Linked DNA regions of Homo sapiens. The protein of the gene in region 3 purifies or fractionates together with the protein of the main gene of each other region. This does not show direct contact. Each region holds a gene or a part of one and is shown on either strand. Other genes may lie near its edges. The genes, in order: PPAT, SGK1, PFAS, EIF4H, BZW2, ITM2C and PPP6R3.

Region 1 (3,500 bases), on a different chromosome or scaffold from region 3:
TTTCTAGATCTATATGAAGGTCGATTTTTTTTTTAAAACCACACAGTTGAGTTCCCCAGTTTGTGTATTTTCACATTCATATTTTTGTATATATTGCATTTCTTTTTATACTCAATCTGTAGAATTCTAGCACTAGTTTTTTAGAATAACACTGTTATATCATGCTAAGTAAAAATACTCTCTCTCCTTTTCCAAACACACCAGACCAAATGGTTTATACAGTAAGATACCGTTGTGGCCAGCAGCTAGCGATTGAAGCACCTGTGGATGCAGATTTGGTTAGCACTGTTCCAGAATCTGCTACGCCTGCTGCTCTTGCTTACGCAGGAAAGGTATTTTCTCTTAATTAACATGCAGTGAATTGCTCTCCCAGCTGTGGAATAAGAAACCCTTGCCTATAAAGAGAAACTCATCAACATTTCTAAGGAGAAAGGAAGCTTTGGTGGTTAATGTTGGTTTGTTTACAAGCGTTTTTTATTTTCCAGGCTTTTTATCCAATGGCACTATTTTAGTGAAAACCACTAAAAGGTTCACTGAAAAGAAAAAAACGTTCACTAAAGCGTTCAGAAATTGGCACCCTTCTTTTTAAAAAGATAACATCATGAATATACAGTTGACCCTTGAACAATTTGGGAGTTAAAGGTGCCAACCCTCTGCACAGTCAAATCTGTGTATGCATTTTAATGCCCCCAAACTTAAATACTGATAACCTACTGTTGACTGGAAGCCTGACCAATAACATAAACAGTTGATTAACATATTTTGTATATGTATTATATGCTGTATTCTTGCAATAACGTAAGCTAGAGAAAAGTAAATGCTTTGAAGAAAATCATAAGGAGGAGAAAATATATTTACTATTCCTTATGTGAAAGTGGATCTTCATAAAGGTCTTCATCCTCATTGTTGTCTTCACGTTGAGTAGGCTGAGGAGGGAAGAGGAAAAGGGGCTGGACTTGCTGTCCCAGGGGTGGCAGAGATGGAAGAAAACCCACCTATAAGTAGACTCATGTACTTCAAACCCATGGTGTTCATCAACTATATATTCAGTGGAAAAATTTACTTAATATTAAAATAAACGTCTTGAATTATCTTCACAAGTCACTGGAATATTTGCTTGCTACTAAGTATGGGTAATAATAAAGCTGTTTATGTTCATTTAGCATGATGTTGTCAGTGTTACGCTTTATTTTCATAACCAGGTAGATGGTGTAACTGTAGTAATCCTGGGGTATAACATCCAATATTCACTACCTTGGATACTTTATTAACTTCTAAAAGAATTAATATGCATACATTTTAGAAAAGATTACCTTGATAAATGGGTTAATTACTTCCTATCCCTAAAAAGTATCTCATTGGTCTACTGGTTTTTATTTATTTATTTTAATTCATTTCTTTAAAAATTATCATTTTGATAATGAATTTTTCTGACAGTGATTTAATCTTTGTCATGTCTTCATATGCTTACTGTTATCTTTCAAAACAGAGGAATAATGTTTAAGACAAAAACATTATGAGTCCTCACAAAATGAATTGGTTTTTCCACCAAGTATATTTTGTTTAGTGGTTTTTCTTTTTGCCTTTTTTCCAAATAATAAAGGAAAATTATTTTGAAATTTTACTTGAATATTGTGGCGGCAACACAACCTAGAGAAAATATTTGCCTATTCTGTATATTACTCCTCATTATCCTTTCATTTCTTCTCTATCAGTGTGGACTTCCATATGTGGAGGTGCTGTGTAAAAACCGGTATGTAGGGAGAACCTTCATTCAGCCAAACATGAGGTTAAGACAACTTGGTGTTGCAAAAAAATTTGGAGTATTGTCAGACAACTTTAAAGGCAAAAGAATTGTTCTTGTAGATGATTCAATTGTCAGAGGCAATACCATCTCACCTATAATAAAACTGCTCAAAGAATCTGGTGCAAAAGAGGTAAGTAATATTAAAACATATCCTAAAGCATAAGTTAACAATAAGATACTGGCATAAAATTGCAATTCAGGGTAGTGAATCAAAATGGATGTTCAATATAATAAATTAACTTTTTTTATCAGTTTGGTTTAGGAATAACTGTGTAGCAACTTGAAGAACATGTCACAGCCACACTTACATTAAATGTAATCCTTAATAGATTAAAAAAGCTCAATATAAAAGCTTAAGGCTGGGCGAGGTAGCTCATGCCTGTAATCCCAGTACTTTGGGAGCCTGAGGTAGGAGGTTGCTTGAGCCCAGGAGTTCGAGAACAGCCTGGGCAATATAGTGAGACCCTGTCTCTACAAAAATAAAAGATAATAATAAAATTAAATTTTAAAAAACCTAAAATTTTTACAAAATTTATTCAAAGACTAACTACACAAAATAGGCTGGGCACAGTGACTCATGCCTATAATTCCAGCACTTTGGGAGGCTGAGGTGGGCAGATTGCTTGCATCCAGGAGTTCAAGACCAGCCTGGACGACATAGTGAAACTCACCTCTCCTAAAATTACAAAAAATGGGTGGGGCGTGGTGGCACACACCTGTAATTCCAGCTACTTAGGAGGCTGAGGTGGGAGGATGGCTTGAGCCCAGGAGGTAGAGATTGCAGTGAGCCGAAGTGATCTCAAAAAAAAAAAAGTCAAAAACACACAATAGAATGCTTTTTAAAATCAATGGAGTATTGATTGCTTTCTCTACTTGAAGACATGCAGCCAATCCCAGTGTAATACCTTTGACTTATTATTTTTTAAAATGTATTTGTTAAAGACAGTGTCTGGCTCTGTTGCCCAGGCTGGAGTGCTATGGCACCATCTCAACTCACTGCAACCTCTGCTTCTGGGGCTCAAGCAATCCTCCCACCTCAGCCTTCTGAATAGCTGCAACTATAGGCATGTGCCATTGCAGCCAGGCTAATTTTTGTATTTTTAGCAGAGACGGGGTTTCACCATGTTGCCCAGGTTGGTCTTGAGCTCCTGGACTCAGGTGATCCACCTGCCTCGGCCTCTCAAAGTGTTAGGATTACAGACGTGAGCCATCGTGCCCGGCCAAGTTATATTTTAATATCACTTTATGCCTTTTTTTCTTTTTTCCTTGATACTGGGACTCACTGTGTCACCTGGTTGGAATGCAGTGGTTCGATCTCAGCTTACTGCAACCTCCACCTCCTGGGCTCAAGAGATCCTCCCACTTCAGCCTCCCAAATAGCTGGGACCATAGGCACACACCACCATGCCCGGCTGATTTTTCGTATTTTTAGTAGAGGCAGGGTTTCACCATGTTGCCCATGCTGATCTCAAACTCCTGAGCTCAGGCCATCTGCCTGCCTCAGCCTCCCAAAGTGCTTGATTACAGGTGTGAGCCACCATACCCGGCCTCACTTTATGTCTTGAAAAAAATTTTTTTTTAATTTTTATTTTTTAAATTGACAAATGTATATATTTATTGTGTACATGTTTTTATATAGATATATTAAGTTATTTTAAGATTTCAAAGCTTATTCTATTTCAGTAGCTCATAC
Region 2 (3,179 bases), on a different chromosome or scaffold from region 3:
TGCCCAGCAGTTTCCTAAATGTCAGTACACATAGGTAGCCAGTCACCCTCAAAAAGTCCAGCAGTTTTATCAGGAAGGAATCTAAAGATATCTATCTTCCAAGCTGGCTCTGGGTCTCTCAGCTTTTTCAAACTAAATGTGTGGTCGTGGGATTGCTTGCTTTCGCAGGTTCTAAACGCTGTTTCCCTGGTCTGTTTTTCAGTATCTCGCACCTGAGGTGCTTCATAAGCAGCCTTATGACAGGACTGTGGACTGGTGGTGCCTGGGAGCTGTCTTGTATGAGATGCTGTATGGCCTGGTGAGTGGCACATTGGGAACCATGGAACACTGCCTGCTCCCTACAATATTGCCTTCACACAGCCCATGCTTGGCCATGGTGTCTTGCCCTTACCAGTACGCTTATCAAAAGCAGCTAAGAGGCATATTGGTTATTTTATAGTTCATAAGAATAATCACTTACCTGGTTCTTTTGTGCATTTCACATTTTACTAGATAGGACCACATTGAACCTGTGTGGTGGTGAAAAACTACCACTTATTAACATCTACCCCCTCACCCTCCACACACACACACACAAACACACACACGGGTTGCAAAGTAGACACTTAAATAGCAAGGGAAAAGAAAGCATTGAGGTGGGGAGAGTTTCTCAAATCGAGCCTAATATTTATTGCCGTTTATATCTTTTTCTCTACTGGTAATGTGTGCCATATGAAACTTCCAATTAAGTCTAAAGTAATTTTCCCCTTCTTTCAGCCGCCTTTTTATAGCCGAAACACAGCTGAAATGTACGACAACATTCTGAACAAGCCTCTCCAGCTGAAACCAAATATTACAAATTCCGCAAGACACCTCCTGGAGGGCCTCCTGCAGAAGGACAGGACAAAGCGGCTCGGGGCCAAGGATGACTTCGTGAGTGATGTTTTCCTGTCCTCCTGGGCCGGCCGGGACGTGCACTAGACCTCCCTGCCCTTATTGAATGCACCTGTCTAAATTAATCTTGGGTTTCTTATCAACAGATGGAGATTAAGAGTCATGTCTTCTTCTCCTTAATTAACTGGGATGATCTCATTAATAAGAAGATTACTCCCCCTTTTAACCCAAATGTGGTGAGTATCTGTCTCTCTTCTAAGTATAGAGAAGCCCAAAGGGCATTTATTTTAATTCAGAATTGTCTGGGGGAGGGTTGGAAGGAATACATTGGCAGATGTTTTCTCCATAAACCTGTTATTTTACCTACATAAAAAGCACATTTTTGTGTCCCAACAAGGCTCCCATAATTTTTAGACACATTTATCAATTCGAAGCACCAAAAGGCAACAAGTGAACATTATTCTTATGTTTAACTGTGTGTAGCCTTTTGAGATTTTGTGCTTGAAGTGGGTGATTATGGAAGTTGATATAAGACTTAAACTTGGTATTTAAAGCCTGGTCAAGATTTCCCTGTCCTGTGTCTAGTGTGAGTTCTTGACAAGAGTGTTTTTCCCTTCCCGTCACAGAGTGGGCCCAACGACCTACGGCACTTTGACCCCGAGTTTACCGAAGAGCCTGTCCCCAACTCCATTGGCAAGTCCCCTGACAGCGTCCTCGTCACAGCCAGCGTCAAGGAAGCTGCCGAGGCTTTCCTAGGCTTTTCCTATGCGCCTCCCACGGACTCTTTCCTCTGAACCCTGTTAGGGCTTGGTTTTAAAGGATTTTATGTGTGTTTCCGAATGTTTTAGTTAGCCTTTTGGTGGAGCCGCCAGCTGACAGGACATCTTACAAGAGAATTTGCACATCTCTGGAAGCTTAGCAATCTTATTGCACACTGTTCGCTGGAAGCTTTTTGAAGAGCACATTCTCCTCAGTGAGCTCATGAGGTTTTCATTTTTATTCTTCCTTCCAACGTGGTGCTATCTCTGAAACGAGCGTTAGAGTGCCGCCTTAGACGGAGGCAGGAGTTTCGTTAGAAAGCGGACGCTGTTCTAAAAAAGGTCTCCTGCAGATCTGTCTGGGCTGTGATGACGAATATTATGAAATGTGCCTTTTCTGAAGAGATTGTGTTAGCTCCAAAGCTTTTCCTATCGCAGTGTTTCAGTTCTTTATTTTCCCTTGTGGATATGCTGTGTGAACCGTCGTGTGAGTGTGGTATGCCTGATCACAGATGGATTTTGTTATAAGCATCAATGTGACACTTGCAGGACACTACAACGTGGGACATTGTTTGTTTCTTCCATATTTGGAAGATAAATTTATGTGTAGACTTTTTTGTAAGATACGGTTAATAACTAAAATTTATTGAAATGGTCTTGCAATGACTCGTATTCAGATGCTTAAAGAAAGCATTGCTGCTACAAATATTTCTATTTTTAGAAAGGGTTTTTATGGACCAATGCCCCAGTTGTCAGTCAGAGCCGTTGGTGTTTTTCATTGTTTAAAATGTCACCTGTAAAATGGGCATTATTTATGTTTTTTTTTTTGCATTCCTGATAATTGTATGTATTGTATAAAGAACGTCTGTACATTGGGTTATAACACTAGTATATTTAAACTTACAGGCTTATTTGTAATGTAAACCACCATTTTAATGTACTGTAATTAACATGGTTATAATACGTACAATCCTTCCCTCATCCCATCACACAACTTTTTTTGTGTGTGATAAACTGATTTTGGTTTGCAATAAAACCTTGAAAAATATTTACATATATTGTGTCATGTGTTATTTTGTATATTTTGGTTAAGGGGGTAATCATGGGTTAGTTTAAAATTGAAAACCATGAAAATCCTGCTGTAATTTCCTGCTTAGTGGTTTGCTCCCAACAGCAGTGGTTTCTGACTCCAGGGGAGTATAGGATGGTCTTAAAGCCAACCTACGTTCCAGGCCTTTTTAGCAGCATTTTATGGTGTCTGTCATTCATAAATCCATCCAAGGAAATCCTTTGCAATTTACTCATCTTGCAAGGATTGCTATGAAGTAATGCTTCCTGTATTTATTGCCTGTCCTGTGAAGTTGGACTATTTGTCCTGACATTTGGCTTGTCTTCAGTTACAGGTAATTCTTTCCAGAAATATTTGAAAGCCTACTCTGGGCTCTATTGCGAGTGCTCAGGATATCGTAGTGGACAAAGCAGACAACTTCGCCCTTCCAGAGCCTGATGAAGAAGGCCGACCTAAAGCAGTTAGTTGAGATGGAAATT
Region 3 (2,349 bases):
GCTGGAGATGGCCTTTGCTGGAAATTGCGGGCTACAGGTGGATGTGCCTGTCCCCAGGGTTGATGGTAAGGAACCTGGGGTCTAGTCTCAGGCCCGGGCTGCCTTCTCTACCCTGCAGACCCCATTTCCAATATATTAAAGAGTGGAGTGCCCTCCAGTCCCCTTTCCCTGAGTCTTCCCTGACTAGCTTTTCTGTGCTGTCTCTCTGACAGCTGAACTGGATGGAACTGGCTGACACCCACCATGTTCCTGACTGCACCCCTCTGAGACTTCCCATCCCTGAGATGTCCATGATGAAACATCCTCAGTCCTGCCGTCCTAGCCCTCATCCTCCCTGATCCCTACCCTACTCTCTGGCTGCATCCCTCTGACCCTCACCCTGGCCCTTCCTGCATTTCCCTGATCCCGCCCCAACTCCCTTGGCCCTTCTTGCATCCCCCTGACTCCCCACATTGCTCTCCCAGTCCTGTCTGTGCTGTTCGCTGAGGAGCCAGGCCTCGTGCTGGAGGTGCAGGAGCCAGACCTGGCCCAGGTGCTGAAGCGTTACCGGGATGCTGGCCTCCATTGCCTGGAGCTGGGCCACACAGGCGAGGCCGGGCCCCACGCCATGGTGAGGAAGTGAGGGAGAGAGCGGTGTGCAGTGGGCAGTCAGAGTGGGGTGGCCGCGGTCCATCCCTCTCCCACTGTGGAGGGGGCCATCCTTTCTCCTAGCCCGTGGGAGATTTGTTCCTCTTCCTAGGTCCGGGTGTCAGTGAACGGGGCTGTGGTTCTGGAGGAGCCTGTTGGGGAGCTGCGAGCCCTCTGGGAGGAGACGAGTTTCCAGCTGGACCGGCTACAGGCAGAGCCTCGCTGTGTGGCAGAGGAGGAACGGGGCCTGAGGGAGCGGATGGGGCCCAGCTATTGCCTGCCCCCCACCTTTCCCAAAGCCTCCGTGCCCCGTGAGCCTGGTGAGGGAGTGTGTGCAGAGGCTCCGCGTCCTGGGGGCACTGAGCCTGGATGCCTGGGCCTGCCCTCAGAAAGGTGTCTGGGGAGTTGGGGTGGGGAAGTGACTTTCTGGCCCAAAGACACTTATTCTCCCCCAAGGTGGTCCCAGCCCCCGAGTCGCCATCTTGCGAGAGGAGGGCAGTAATGGAGACCGGGAGATGGCCGATGCCTTCCACTTAGCTGGGTTTGAGGTGAGCAGGGTAGGGGGCAGCTGGGGGTGATTGTCCAGCCTCAGCTGCGTGTCCTCCCACCCACACTCCCCCTCCCCACCTTCGCAGGTATGGGACGTGACCATGCAGGACCTCTGCTCTGGGGCAATTGGGCTGGACACTTTCCGTGGCGTGGCCTTCGTGGGCGGCTTCAGCTATGCAGATGTCCTGGGCTCTGCCAAAGGTCAGTGTGCAGGCTTCTGCCCACTCCCTTCCCCCACATTCCTGAAGAGGTGCCTTTAGCCCCATCTTCCTGGGCTGGGGATTGGCCTCTCACTCCACCGAGCTACGAGAGAGTGGGCCCATTCGTTCTGGGCCACATGCCAACAGAAGGCTGGTAGTAAATTTTTAATTTTTTCATTGAAAAAAAGTATATATATACACATATGTAATTAAAATATATATTATTAAATATATATTATTTATATATATTATTTATATATTATTAAAATGTATATTATTTATATATTATTAAAATATATATTATTTATATATATTATTTATATATTATTAAAATATATTATTTATATATATTATTTATATATTATTAAAATATGTATATTTTTAAATATATATATATATATATATGTATTTTTTGAGACGGAGTTTCACCCTTGTTGCCCAGGCTGGAGTGCAATGGCGCAATCTTGGCTCACCGCAACCTCCACCTCCTGGGTTCAAGCGATTTTCCTGCCTCATCCTCCCAAGTAGCTGGGATTACAGGCATGCAAAAATACAAAAATTAGCCAGGCGTGCTGGCGGGCGCCTGTAATCCCAGCTACTTGGGAGGCTGAGGCAGGAGAATCGCTTGAACCCAGGAGGCAGAGGTTGTAGTGAGCCGAGATCATGCCACTGTACTCCAGCCTGGGTGACAGAATGAGATTCCATCTCAAAAAAAAAAAAAAAAGAAAGAAGGAAAGGAAGGAAGGAGGGAGGGAGGGAAAAGGAAGAAAGAAAAAAGAAAAGAAACAGAGCAGTTATGCCCCTTCATTCCCAATTCCCTTTTTTGAGGTCCTCCATGTCTCACCCTGACTTCCCTATTCCCTGCTAGGGTGGGCAGCTGCTGTGACCTTTCATCCCAGGGCTGGGGCTGAGCTGAGGCGCTTCCGGAAGCGGCCAGACACCTTCAGCCTGGGCGTGTGTAATGGCTGTCAAC
Region 4 (4,102 bases), on a different chromosome or scaffold from region 3:
GCAACATAGTGAAACCCATCTCTATTTAAAAAAGAATTCTAAACTCCCTAACTGAATCCTGATAAAGAATAAATTTGGAGTTTTGCCAGTTTTTAGATGGCACCATTTCAGCCACCTCAATTCTTGCCACCTCCAATTTCCACCCTAATTCTCAGGATCGGTGGTTTTCCACTAAGCACTCATAGCTTTGTTGCAATTAGAAATATAAAATCAGTATTACTCTGCACTTTACTGCCAATGGTAGATGAGAAACTGGAACCTCAAAAAGATAATTTAGCAAACTGCAAAACAAAGTCCATTCAAGATCTGGTACAATCAACTCTTGATCATTTGGAATTTTGTTTTGATTTGCTTGCTGAACAATGCAGTCCCTGGTTCTCTCCCTGGCTGCTGGGGACATGCCCTTACAGGCTCGGGGGAAAAAAGCAGTGGTTCAATACTGTTTCCTGACAACTGCACTGGTTATTAAACACAACTACGAAATAAACTTAGGAAGATGTATAACTACCAAACTATGTTTTATGATGATAACTGTTCATTTTAGGCCTACCATTTCTTTCACCTGTGACCCAAGTAATTCAGAGGTGAGATGTACGAGCCTGTCTGAGGCATTTTAGACAAGGGAGAAGGTGCCTACACAAGTACCAAACAATGCAGTGTTAAAACTGCTTTCCATAGGTGGCAATCTTCTATGATGCTTAAGCATTGTAAAGCAGTGACATTTGTTCATGTGGACATAATTAAAATAATTGAGGCCGGGCGCGGTGGCTAATGCCTGTAATCCCAGCACTTTGGGAGGCTGAGGCAGGAGAATCGCTTAAACCCGGGAGGTGGAGGTTGCAGTGAGCCGAGATCACACCATTGCACTCCAGCTTGGGCAACAAGAGTGAAACTCCATCTCAAAAAAAAAAAAAAAGAATACACATGTATAAATGAATATGTAAATTCACCAACAAGTTTTTAAAACTACTTCTGAAAGTAGCAATACTTTATGTAGTTTCACATTAATATGAAGCCAAATAGAAAATTCCAAGTAAGTGAGACATAGAAGATGCTTAACAGTAAAGAGACTTTCTATTAGGAAGTTCAAGTGATGCACAGTGCTACCTAGGAAACTCTCCTATCAGTTTTTGGAGTACACCTGGGGCAAATGGCTAATATTTTCATCTGCTGTGGAGATTTGAAATTAATAGCATCTTAATAGAATTTTACTTCTGATTGTTCCTGGCACCCCCAAATGTCAAAATTTGACACCAGAAGAGCTGGCAAATGTGTCTGAAGGAAATTTTTTTAAATCCCCACACTCAGTTTAATAAGGTCACCTTATTGTAGTCCCAATGCAACTAAAACTTAAATTGACCACGCTGTTTAAGAAGAATTTTTCTGGGTACTTCTGTGAACGTTTTTTGGAACTAGGAAAAAAAAAAAAACCCTAGTTATTAAATTTCGAAATGACTTGAGAACAAATTTGATGTTTAGAAACCTAACCCAAAGGCGATAATTTCATGTCATCCAACATTTACTTCTTTTTTTATTAGCAAATAAAATGTTCTTTGGAATGACAATAGCTCCACCTACACCGGCACACTTCCACGTTACAGTATCATGAACATTAGCTACACTCCTGCCCCGAAACAAGCTTTTGTCTGAGCCGTTCCCAAACCAAGGTATTAAAAGTGATCATTCTTTACCAAACAAAGATACTTTTGGACTGCAACCCAGGAGACTGAACACCTCAGTGTGTATTATTGTGGTGTTATCCTGGGAAAGTAATCCTTTCTGCAAGAAAACACAAAGCCCAAGTGTGTCCTTGACAAACAGCAAGATGTTCATAGCCTATATTCTAACGAGGCAACTTGTATTTAAAAAATAAAATAAAAAAAAGTGCAGAGTCCTGGAATTAAACACCATGAGCTCTCTATTCAAAGATGTTTCTTTTAAGCAAAGTGTTTCAATTATACATAGTTGTCTGCATTTGACAACAATCAGGACGACGCTAAATGCGGTTCCTTCTCCAGATCAGAGCGAGAAACCAAGGAGAAATGAAATTGTGCCAAAGAGCACGTAGCACCTGTCAAGGCACTGTGACCCAAGAAAGATTAATACAAAGAAGCTACGATGGATTTATCTCCTTGGTCTCCCCCCGCCCGCAAGGAGTCGTACCATCCCCGGGCCAGAGCCGCCAAATCCCTGCCTCACACGTAAGGGGAAGGGAATCGCCCCTCTTGGCTGCCGACCTTCCCCAGTCGGCCGGCCTCGTGGCGAAGGGGCCAGGGGCCTGCAAGGCGGGCAGGCAACAGAGGGCCGCGAAAGAGGCCGGGACCGGAGCGGGGCAGGCCGTGTGGCCCGTACCCCAGCGCCACAGCTCAGCCCCGCACTGGTCCTACCGTAGGGGGGATGGGGCTGGAAGCGGGCGCTCGTCTCCGGGCATCGGCGCCGCCGCGGCCAAGGCAGGGCAAAAACCAACACGTTGTCGTTGGCGGGAGGCAGTGGAAGGGATCCGCCCCGCAAGCAAGACCCCGGGAGCCCAGCCGCCGCCGCCCCGTCTCCGAGCGCGCCATTTCCAGGCCCCGGCCCTCCAGGCGCCGCTCCTAGGCCTCCGCGGGCCCCCGCCTCCCGCCGCCCCGGCTGAGCGCAGGACGGCCGCCACCCTGACGGCCCCGACTCCGCCGGTCCCGCAGCCCCCGACGGGGCCCGCGCACGCCCGCCTCACCCTCTGCCGCCGCCGAAGCTGCTGTAGGCCCGATCGTCGTAGGTGTCGAAGTCCGCCATTTGCCGTCTCCGCTCCGAGAGGAACCAGGGTGAGCGAGGAAGGACCCCGCAATATAACTCCCCCCGCCCCGCCGCCGGGGCTGTCCGCCGCGCCGCCTGATCGCAAATCCCTTGGACGCAGGCACGCGCACGCGCGCGCGCGCACGCACGCACGGACGCTGGCCGCGCAGCGCCCGGCCCTGGGCCCACCGGCAGCTGCCTGCCCCGTGCGCTCTGCAGCCCACGTGGTGCGGCGGCGTCCCAGCTGGACGCCTGCCCGGCCTACGCGGCCCATTATGTGCTGGCCCTGGGGTGCGCCCGTGGCTGCCTCCTATCCCCGCCGCACCACGCCCGTGCGCGCCGGCCTTTCCGTCCGTCGGCGGGAGGTGACCTGGAGAGCTGGGGGGAACTCCCTCTCCAGTTCGCCTGGGACGCTGCCTTTCGGCCTCCATACATGGCGGGGACCTCGGAGGCCTGTCCCGCTTGGACCCCCAAGTGGTCCCCGGGTGACACCCAAGTAAAGGCCACCTCCTTCTCCAGGCAGGAGCTGGCCACACGATGAGGATGCCCCGGAAGGGGGTGCGAGGCGGTGGGATGCAGACACGAATCCTGCCTTCCAGGGCTTACTCGCTGCCTGGGTATTGGGGGGTTTTGAGAGGAGAGAGTATAGGTGATCGGTGACTTAGCAAGAGAGACTGCACATCTCGGTTTTTTGCAGAAGTCGTTGCCTTGGAAAAAGAATTGGATACTGTTGTGGATTCCATCATCTAGCAATAACAAAACATGGTTATGCAGTGGGAATTAATTACACGGGTAAATTTCCAGGTTTGTGATTGAGATGGTAGTAATTGTGGATGCCACGATGTTGACAAACCTTAATTATCTAAGCACACTTTGAAAGAACCTCATAGAATTTTGTTGTGATGTGTACCTAGGTATCTTCCGCTTAACCATTACTTTTTATTATGTATTTATTGGTTCGTTGTTGAGACAGGGTCTCGCTCTGTCGCCCAGGCTGGACTGCGGTGGAACAGTGGTAGCTCACGGCAGCCTTGACCTCTTGGGCTCATGCCATCCTGCCGCCTTAGCCTCTGGAGTAGCTAGGACTATAGGCGGGCAGTACCTCGCCTAATTTGCATTTTTTTTTTTTTTTTTTTGAGATGGAGAATCAGGTTGGAGTGCAGTGGCGCAATCTCATCTCACTGCAACCTCCACCTCCTCGGTTCAAGCAATTCTCCTGCCTCTGTCTCCCGAGTAACTGGGGTGACAGACGTGCACCACCACACCCAGTTAATTTTTGTATTTTTAGTAGAGACAGCGTTTCACCATGTTGCCCAGGCTGGTCTTGAAC
Region 5 (3,500 bases), on a different chromosome or scaffold from region 3:
TTCACTATGTTGGCCAGCCTGCTCTCAAACTCCTGACCTCAGGTGATCCACCCACCTCTGCTTCCCAAAGTGCTGGGATTACAGGTGTGAGCCACCACACCTGGCCTGAATTCACTCTTACTCATTATTATCCTTCCACTTTATATTTCCATTATTTAAAATTGCCAGTTAATTGGTAAAGGTGTCATAAAAATCTATAGAATTCCATAATGCGTGATTAAGCTAAATGTATTTTTCTCCTTTCACATCTACTAATCATTTCTTCCTTATTGTCCTCCATCAGAGTGGATAATTTAAGCATTTCATTTCTTTCTTTGTTTTTACATGTAGAGATTTTTATTGCCGTGATTTCAGAAAGGAAAGCTAAGATGTTGGCAAAATGTTTGATACGAAAGATAACTCTAGAATTTTAGTTTTAGAAAATCAAGTAAAATCTGTGGAAGAGGTAAATATTTTGACATATAATGAGACAGTGTTTAAAGGTCATCAATGTTTGTAAACAGAATCATACCTTCTTCTGCATTTTGTAACCACTCAACAAATTTCTTCATCTGGTCAAGAAAAACACTTTTGCCTTTAGCAACATGTGCTTCCTTATACCATTTCAGTATTGCTTCTTCGCTCAGAACATCAGCTGCAATTTTAAATCAAAGATTTCAAAGTTACTATACAAATGTCATGTTTCAAAACAACTTCATGTATTACAGTTTAATAGAAAGCAATCATTTTAAATATAAAGCATTCTGTTACTTATCAGAAGAGAGGAACCAAGTTGATTTTCATGTAGCATAGTGCCATATTTTGATAGCTTACTAAAGGCTTAAGTACTGATGATGATGATATACATCTTCTTAGGCATGATATAATGCAAGCCTATAGCTCACTACTAGGACTTGGAAATCTCTCACAGTGCTAATTTGCTGGTAGGAAATAGAATTGTTTTGTAATTTTGCAAATGAACCAGCAATTCCAGCATTTTAGAACATTTTGGGTCCTGCCAAGTTCAACCATATCTTGATTAAAGAGTAACCTCAAATGACCAGTGTCTTTTAAGGAGATTGGGATTTTCTTTTTTTAGGAGAAAAATGACAAAGGAAAAAAATGTAGATAGTATGCAATAATGATGTTAGCAATTAGATATAAAGAGGAACTTCTGGGCTATGTTGTGGGAGTAATACACACCTAAACTGAAGTTCTACACTTTCTCCATCACTAAATCACGACTTATTTTCCCACAGTATATCCCAAATTACAAGAGTAATATTTTTCCTCTACTACATTAAGACAAAATAGACATATTAGCTAATTTCCTACAGGTTTCTAAAAACAACAAAAAATGTTAACTATCTTTTGTCTAAAACTCTAAATTCCACAAATGTGCCTTGATATTCTCAACATAACATTAATTGAGAGTATTTAATGTTAAGAATAGGAAGGAGAATATAAAAATAAGTGTACATAGTCTCCCAATGTTCTAATGGGTTGTTCTAACATTCTTCTAATGTTCCAATGTTCTAATGGGTTGTTGTTTGGGAATCTGTAGTGGGAAACGAGACAGAAAACAGGTACAAAGCATTTATTATTGTCCCCGAGATGTGCTCAATTCATTACAAATACTGATAAAGCCATATAATGTTAATAAATTACTTTAATGATATCTTTTCAGTTAAAATATAATTTCAACTTATGAAAATGACAGAAACAATTTAATATTGTTTTCATTTAAAACATCACTGGTAGTTTCATAACAAAAACATTGGCTTTTTTTATTTTTAAAGAATTATTGGCTCTTGGAAAATGTTCTTGAATTAAATTGAAGAGGCTGAGCTGACTAAAATGAACATGATTTGTTTATGAAAATAAAAGGTTTTTTAAAAAAACATGTTTATTATCATCACTAAAAACATTACATTTTGCAAAGGAAGCAAGAAGTCTGGATTTACTTATAGAGCCTGGATGTAAGAGCTACAATCAGGGGTCCTGTAGACTTATTCTTAGCTTCTAGTTATTTTAGCTCTTTGTTTCCAGCTCTCCACTGAGATAAAAGAAATTTCTACCAGCCATCAGAGCCTAATTGTCATAGAGCTGAGGAGCAGGCAGTTGTGTCCCGAGGAAGTGACCTGTTATTGTGTAAGACTGCCTTGCAGAGACTTTTAAAGAACATTAACAGGGATTTTAAAAGACCCTTTTATATAACTTGTAAATTATCTTTAAGATGCTTATGATTAGATCAGTAATTATCAAACTGTTTGGATCATGTCTTCCTGCCTGTAGGATAATTTTGAGCATATACACCCAACATATGTATATTTTTGAGTTTATAAATTATATTCATGCACTATTAAACTATCATTATTAATGTTCTGCACAAACAATATAATTTTAAACTGTGACAAACATGGAAAGGAGAATTGTTTTTTTTCTCCACACCTTAATGAATTGAGGATGATACAAAGTACAGGTTGGAAAGCTGATGTAGACTGCAGTTTAGTGATACTATTTGTCTGAGCTTTCCTTTTGAAGGTTGAGAGCACATTCCTGTGTTTTATTGCCTCACAGAGGCTGAAGGAGACCATGCAACTACTAAAATGCTTGTCAATGTCAGTGCTTGTGAAAAGCACACTAAATGATAGGTAAAACCTATCAAATGCATTGTTTATTGCAAATCTTGTGCCTTGATATTCTTAAGTTACCATTAATTGAGAATATTTAATGTTAAGAATAGGAAGGAGAATTTAAAATAAGTCTACATATTAACGGCGCAATGTGGAGTTCTTAGAAGAACCCAGGGTAGTAACAACTACTTGCTGAAAGATCAAACTTCTAGTACCAGAGAATTATTAATTAAAAGCTACTGAAGTATCTACACAGAGCACCATATGAGGCAAAGTATGAACATCGAAGAGTTTAAGAAGAAATTAAACTTCTATTTAGTGAAAGGAAAGGTCTGAAAAGGAAGGAACTCCTTGAGGGACAAAGAATTCAGACAATTTTTTCCCTCACTAAGGATAAAGTAGGGAAAAGAGTTAATTAAAACTGAGAAACCATTTTTGGTGGGATATTTCATAAATGCCTATTAGGAATATAGAATAACAGTAAAAGACAGTAAGAAAGGAAGACATTGTATGATGGCACATAGAGACTGGAATATATGTTTTCCCCTTCTATCTGGCCAACTTCTTCATAATGTCTGGTGAGATACATGTACCTTGAGAGCCTTCACTTCTCCCCCTCCAAATTACCTTTAACAAGTTAGGTGCCCTCCCTCTGTGGTCCTATCCCTTCTGACACCCTCTGTGTGAGGCTTATTTCAGCAATTGACATGGTGAGTGTAATTCTTTGTTTTCTTCTACATCCTGAAATTCAGGAAGTCAGGGACTATATTTTGTTCATCTCATTTCCAGCATTTAATGAAAGACCTGCCCTATAGTATCGATTCAACACACGTTTAAGGAATAAATTTGTTAACTTGATGAGAAAAAATAAATATTTCTCAATTT
Region 6 (2,404 bases), on a different chromosome or scaffold from region 3:
TGGGGTCCACCTAGACATGGCTCTGGCCAGCTCTCCTGCCGCTTCCAGAATTCTCTGGAGAATGTGACCCTGTGATTATCACACCAAACCTCACTTCAGATCCTCCAGGAATGGTTACAAATTGTCCAGACGTGGTGGAGAATAGGACACCGCCCTTGTGCTTAAGGACATGCAATAATGATGTCATCTGCCAGGTAGAACATTACAGGGTGGTTTACAGGCACTTAAAGCAGCACGACCTTGGGCGAGTCGGTAAGCTCTCCCAGCCCTGTTCCCCTCCTCACCCGGAAAGTGTGAACTCTACCTGGCTCAGATCCAGGGTGCTACGAAGGGGATATCCTACACTCCTTGGCTGAATCCAGGATGCCCAGCTCTTTAGGGGCCAGATGTCAAGGTCTGCAGGCTTCTCCCTGCCTGCTGCTCCCGAGGTCCAGCTCCTCGACCCTGCCCGGAGCACCCCTCCTACACCCATCTCCCCTCCAGCCACACTCAAGTCAAGGTCAGAAGTAAAAGATTTTTATTGTTCTATAGACACTTCTGAAAAGAGATCTAATTGAGAAAATATACAAAGCATTTAAGAGTTTCATCCCCAGAGACTGACTGAAGGCGTTACAGCCCTCCTCTCCAAGGCTCAGGGCTGAGAACGGTTAGCATATCGAATGATCAGTAAAAACATGCAAAAGTGAGAAGGAAAGGGAAAAAGGTGCATTCCCCTAAGCTGAGGGGGATGGAATTTCAGAACAGAGGAGGCAGGGTGGACAAGTACCAGGTGGCTCTCCCTTTCCCTCTGTGTTATCTTTCAAAACAGTTCCAAGCTTGGAGAAAGCAATGAGCTCCACCTACTCAGCAGAACCCACGGCTCGTCCCCCGTGGACGTGACTGAGCAGTGACCTTGCCTGCCCCGTTCCTCAGCCGCCCATCCCACTGCCTTGACTGAGGGGACCCTGCTTGTGCTCCTGGGGGGCAGGACTGGGGGTCCTAGCTCCTTGCTTCTTTGGTTCCACTCAGAGAACAGTTGTGCTTGACGGACTCATCCCCACTCCCCAAACTCCAAGCTCCTGCTGGTGGGCTGAAGGCACTGACAGAGTCCCTGGGACACCCCCAGGTAGCCACCTTCTCTTGTGCTCTGGTGGGTCCCTCCCTGGGCACATCGTCCCATCCTCAGCTCAAGCCCCAGGTCTAGGAATAGGGACAGTGAAGAAAGTGTACCCTCCAAGAAAAAGCTTCTGAGGACTTTTCTAATTGTGCAGATACTTCTGAAGCCCATGCCGCCCCGCCCCCACAGCCCCATCCCCTTGCCCAGGGCCTCACATGCCCGGCTCCCCCAACCGGTCCTTCCCCTTGGGCTGCCGGTGCAGCTGTGGGCCCAGGCTTTGGCAGGCCCAGCTTCAAGACAGTGGGACACAGAAAACACTTTGCAGCATCGCCTCTCCCTCCGCCACACCCAGGTCAGCAGAGATGGGCCCCCCACCGAGAGATCACAGCTCTGGTACAGGGAGGTGGGCAGGGTTGGAGAGGAATGGAGAGACATGTCACCTCTATAGAAACGCGTCCAAAGTACAAGCTAAGCAGGGGGAAGGAGGAGGGCCAGAGAGCAGCCGGAAAGAAGAAAAGAGGAACACGGCAGGGGGTTCTGGGGGAGGAGGGCCTCACACCACCCCGCAGATGAGCGTCTCCACCACGAAGGTGTTCTCGAAGTGGCGGATGGCATTGCAGTTCTTGGCCCCACGCTTGTTGATCCCTGGGAGGAAAAAGAAAAACCCCAGTGAGCCCTGCATCCTGGCTGAGTCACAAAGACCACCAGCCTCAGCCTGAGCCACAGGAGGGCCAGGAAGTGACACCATTCACCCAGATTCACCCAAAGAGCACAGTGAGAAATGGGGAGAGCTCGAAAGCTGGAGTCAGCCTGCCCATGTCTGCCACCTCCCTGCTGTGTGACCTCCAGGGTGTTAACCTCTCTGCACCTGTTTCCTCATCTTTAAAATGGGCAGCAAAAATAATAATGAGGATGAGAATGACTTACACTCTTAAGAGGTCATAAAGAGCACACAGCATTGCCCGGCACACGGAAGTGCTCTGCTAATGCTAGCTGTTATTGCTGCTGCTATCTGAGCTCTCTGACAGCTGGGCTAGGCGTGAAGATAACTGTGGTCTGGGGCACGGGACAGGGGCTACTGTGGGTGAAGCCAGCCACTCACGCCTCCGCGTTGCCCGGCGCCGGAGCCGGTAGGTGTCTTTCCCGTTGCACAGGTGGTAGATGAAGGACCCCAGGGCCTCCTTGTCACTGACATGCTCCGTGACCACCATCTCCTCCTGGATGATGTACGTCTGCGGCAGGTAGGTCCCCCTCTGCAAAACAAGGTGGCCGCCACAGTGAGTCGGCCCCTCAGGCTTTCGTCCAACC
Region 7 (3,500 bases), on a different chromosome or scaffold from region 3:
ATCAAAATGAAATTCTTACAATTTTTTTTTTTTTTTGAGATGGAGTCTGGCTCAGTCGCCCAGGCTGGAGTGCAGTGATCTTGGCTCACTGCAAGCTCCGCCTCCTGGGTTCACGCCATTCTCCTGCCTCAGCCTCCTGAGTAGCTGGGGCCACAGGCGCCCGCCACCACACCCAGCGATTTTTTTGTATTTTTAGTAGAGACGGGGTTTCACCGTGTTAGGATGGTCTTGATCTCCTGACCTCGTGATCCGCCCGCCTCGGCCTCCCAGAGTGCAGAGATTACAGGCATGAGCCACCACGCCTGGCCTCTTATAAATTTTTTTGAAAATTATAGAAAATTTACCACGCTAACTATTTGTGTTAGTTGCTTTGAAGAGAAAAAAGATACTCCCTTTCTCTTGGAGAAACGTACTCTTGTCTTTGTATGTTTGTTGTTGGTTTTTTACTAGATTCCATACCAGTTCTGGCATGTCAGATAAGCAGATAGCACGCCATTTAGGCTCTAAAGCAATACTTCACATCCCCATTTAGTCCTCGTTATTTATGAGGGATACCTTCCAAGACTCCTTTGGATGCCTGAAACCACAGCTATCGAACCCTATATATACTATGTGTTTTTCCTATACATACCTGTGACAAAGTTTAATTTATAAATTAAGCACAGGAAGAGATTAATAATAACTAATAATAAAGTAGAACAATTATAAATCTATACTGTAATGAATGTTATGTGAATGTCATCTCTTGGATTAGCATGTCTTACTGTATTATACTCACCTATTTTCAGATCATGGTTGACTGTGGGTAACTGAAACCACAGAAAATGAAACTGTGGTTATGCAAGTACTAATGTGAACTCAGGTTCCTTTTAATTGGTCCTTTTGGACTGAGAGCACATCATTTTTACTTTATTAAATCACTGTTCTGTAAATGTATTTAAGTATTGGCTTAAACATTGAGGTAACCGAATAAAACATGGTTTTTCTTTTTTGTAGAACATGTTCTTCAAGTATACATGGAATAACTTTTTGCATACACAAGTGGAAATTTGTATTGCACTGATTCTTGCAAGTCCTTTTGAAAACACAGAAAATGCCACAATTACCGATCAAGACTCCACTGGTGATAATTTGTTATTAAAACATGTAAGCTTATTTGGTCTCGTTTTTCTCCCACTCTCTCCTGGTTATAGCAGTTTTCCACTTGACTGTGATGTGAATTGAGGTTTAAAGGGCTTGAGGTTAGATTTCAGAGTCTAAATATTTGACAATCATGTGTTCGTTTCACTTTTAACATATAAATCATTATATAAATCAAGTACTGGACAAATAACTATTAAATGAACAGTCTTGTAAGAAAAAAGCTAAGTGGCCTCCTTATTTGGTAAAATTAATAGGTTTGAAGATATATAAATTCTTTGATGATTTGAAGAATCATAGAAATTTAAATACTATGGAAAACATTTGCACTATTATTTGGCTGACCAGAGTGTAGTTTCTTTGCTGAATACGTGACTGAAAGTCAGGAGAACTGAGTTCTTTGTGATGTTGAGAGTCTTCCTGGGGTCTCTTTTTCTCTTCTGTCAAATATGAGATAATTTTACTAAGTCAGTCTTCAGATTTTTTCTTGCTTGGTAGTTCTATGGTACTTTTAAAATTTCTAGCCCACACTTGGTTTACTCGCAAACCTAAAATGTAGAAAAGGCTAGCTTGGAACAGCCAAGTTGATGGGAAAGACAAATGACACCTGAGAAGAACTAGCCCTGCACATTCCAGTATTGCAGCCTACAGCAGTTGTCACTGACTTGCAGACTTTGGGCAAAACCCACCTGTTTTTAATATTAATGCAGTAATGTTAGTTCATCTGGAAGTAAGACGTGCTCACATTTTAAAAGTACAAGCATTACTTTGGATTCTAAGTTAAATTTTTGCCAAGGCATAGTTTTCTTTATTCCATTTTAATTTAGCTCAGGTTTTATATTTCTGTTCTGAATTTTCACAGCTAATAAAACCTGGCTTTCCTTTATAGTTAACTATAGGTAGTTAACTGCACTACCTATAATACTGAGTTTCCTGTAGATGTTCTGTGGAGGGTGTGGATCCTGATTTGAATCTCTGTAGTGTTGTGGGTGTCTGCAGTAGATTGATGATCACATTGCATTTGGCTTAGTAACATTTAGCTTGCTAGATTATGCATACTACTATTCTCTTTAACCTAGAGTTCTGTTTCACTTTAAAGTTTTGATGCTTTGAAGTATTAACTGGAATATTCTTTTTTTTTTTTTCAGCTTTTCCAAAAATGTCAATTAATAGAACGAATACTTGAAGCCTGGGAAATGAATGAGAAGAAACAGTAAGTAAATTGTTTTTTTGAAAGGAATTCAGTTTGGTTGGTAATATGAGGAAAATAATACCTCCTTGCCCTAGTCAGAAAAAAATGGAAATAATTACATGATACTGGCCATTTTACAATTTAAACTTTTCCCCAGATTATTTCATTGTAACAGTTGTTTTTATAATACTAATAATTTCTTGTTAGGTCCTCTTGTTTTTGGGGCAAAACAAGTGAGTTCGGAGTGTTCCCCACCTCTGTGCTGCCTTTGAAACTTCCTGGTCCTTTTTGAATGGCTACTGTTCTAAGAGTTATAAGGTTAAAGTTAAGTCCTTGATGATGTGACTTAGTGTATTTGTCCTGGTCACCTTATGCTCAGAACAGAAGGTATCACGTACATATTTTCATTGTAGAGAAGAGTTGCTTTGTACAGGGACCTAGAGGAAAAAAATTGCTCAGTGTTTTCTTTTTAGAAAATGTTTGTTAGCTGATTGGCAAGGTTATGTGAAGTATTAGTTGATACATGTAAGTAGCTTTGTTACACAAAACGTTTTCTTACAGGTGTTGTCTGTAACAGCATTCCTCTCTAGTGCCCTGGAAGCCTTTATGTCACCCCGTAGATTCTGAAGCATGGTGGCATAAGGGCGTGTTTGGGAAACACTCTGAAGGCATGCTTCTGTGTTTGTTTTTAAGACAGGTTTATTGAGATATAATTCTCATATGGTAAAGCTCATTTTAGGTGTACATTCCTAGGAATTCTGACTGATGCCTGAAGTCACCATCACCACAATCAAGACATTTCTGTCACCCCCAAAATTTCTCTCATGGTCCTTTGTAGTTGATCATTTCCCAGCATTCTTGTTATGTGTCTCTGTGTCTCCAGGAAAGCTAGATGACTCTTGGGAGTCAGCCTTACTTTGTGAGGTTTGATTTTTTTTTTTTAAATCGTTTAATAAGCACTGCTACTAGGGTTTTGATTTGGCTTCATGTGGGAAATTGGCATTTTGTTTGTTTGTTTGTGGCAAGGGGCTAGTATTGGTAGACCTCAGATACATTCTTCCAAATGGAGCTCTTTGGAGATGCTGTTTGTGGCCCAGTTGACATCTCTGGTTATATGTCTGACTCCGTCTTGGCTTCTCTGTGTCCTTCCCAACCTCCAGTCTTCTTG

The links.
Region 1: the proteins of PFAS (region 3) and PPAT fractionate together in Homo sapiens (co-fractionation; one large-scale study listed by BioGRID). This does not show direct contact.
Region 2: the proteins of PFAS (region 3) and SGK1 purify together in Homo sapiens (co-immunoprecipitation; one large-scale study listed by IntAct). This does not show direct contact.
Region 4: the proteins of PFAS (region 3) and EIF4H fractionate together in Homo sapiens (co-fractionation; one large-scale study listed by BioGRID). This does not show direct contact.
Region 5: the proteins of PFAS (region 3) and BZW2 fractionate together in Homo sapiens (co-fractionation; one large-scale study listed by BioGRID). This does not show direct contact.
Region 6: the proteins of PFAS (region 3) and ITM2C purify together in Homo sapiens (co-immunoprecipitation; one large-scale study listed by IntAct). This does not show direct contact.
Region 7: the proteins of PFAS (region 3) and PPP6R3 fractionate together in Homo sapiens (co-fractionation; one large-scale study listed by BioGRID). This does not show direct contact.

The regions. Positions count from the first base shown.
Region 1 is NC_000004.12:56,397,616-56,401,115, reverse strand, and holds part of PPAT (amidophosphoribosyltransferase), read left to right. Parts: intron 1-204; coding exon 205-332; intron 333-1,715; coding exon 1,716-1,937; intron 1,938-3,500. UniProt on the Homo sapiens protein: Catalyzes the formation of phosphoribosylamine from phosphoribosylpyrophosphate (PRPP) and glutamine.
Region 2 is NC_000006.12:134,168,756-134,171,934, reverse strand, and holds the end of SGK1 (serine/threonine-protein kinase Sgk1), read left to right. Parts: intron 1-202; coding exon 203-298; intron 299-756; coding exon 757-912; intron 913-1,019; coding exon 1,020-1,109; intron 1,110-1,499; coding exon 1,500-1,667; 3' UTR 1,668-2,679; downstream 2,680-3,179. UniProt on the Homo sapiens protein: Serine/threonine-protein kinase which is involved in the regulation of a wide variety of ion channels, membrane transporters, cellular enzymes, transcription factors, neuronal excitability, cell growth, proliferation, survival, migration and apoptosis.
Region 3 is NC_000017.11:8,266,289-8,268,637, forward strand, and holds part of PFAS (phosphoribosylformylglycinamidine synthase), read left to right. Parts: coding exon 1-65; intron 66-212; coding exon of another isoform or gene 213-235; exon of another isoform or gene 236-464; coding exon 465-610; coding exon of another isoform or gene 611-622; exon of another isoform or gene 623-739; coding exon 740-947; intron 948-1,083; coding exon 1,084-1,175; intron 1,176-1,262; coding exon 1,263-1,377; intron 1,378-2,244; coding exon 2,245-2,349. UniProt on the Homo sapiens protein: Phosphoribosylformylglycinamidine synthase involved in the purines biosynthetic pathway. Catalyzes the ATP-dependent conversion of formylglycinamide ribonucleotide (FGAR) and glutamine to yield formylglycinamidine ribonucleotide (FGAM) and glutamate.
Region 4 is NC_000007.14:74,173,054-74,177,155, reverse strand, and holds the start of EIF4H (eukaryotic translation initiation factor 4H), read right to left. Parts: upstream 2,801-4,102; 5' UTR 2,773-2,800; coding exon 2,714-2,772; intron 1-2,713. UniProt on the Homo sapiens protein: Stimulates the RNA helicase activity of EIF4A in the translation initiation complex. Binds weakly mRNA.
Region 5 is NC_000007.14:16,701,681-16,705,180, reverse strand, and holds part of BZW2 (eIF5-mimic protein 1), read right to left. Parts: intron 635-3,500; coding exon 512-634; intron 1-511. UniProt on the Homo sapiens protein: Translation initiation regulator which represses non-AUG initiated translation and repeat-associated non-AUG (RAN) initiated translation by acting as a competitive inhibitor of eukaryotic translation initiation factor 5 (EIF5) function.
Region 6 is NC_000002.12:230,877,345-230,879,748, reverse strand, and holds the end of ITM2C (integral membrane protein 2C), read right to left. Parts: intron 2,350-2,404; coding exon 2,199-2,349; intron 1,742-2,198; coding exon 1,650-1,741; 3' UTR 501-1,649; downstream 1-500. UniProt on the Homo sapiens protein: Negative regulator of amyloid-beta peptide production. May inhibit the processing of APP by blocking its access to alpha- and beta-secretase.
Region 7 is NC_000011.10:68,568,752-68,572,251, forward strand, and holds part of PPP6R3 (serine/threonine-protein phosphatase 6 regulatory subunit 3), read left to right. Parts: intron 1-996; coding exon 997-1,146; intron 1,147-2,288; coding exon 2,289-2,353; intron 2,354-3,500.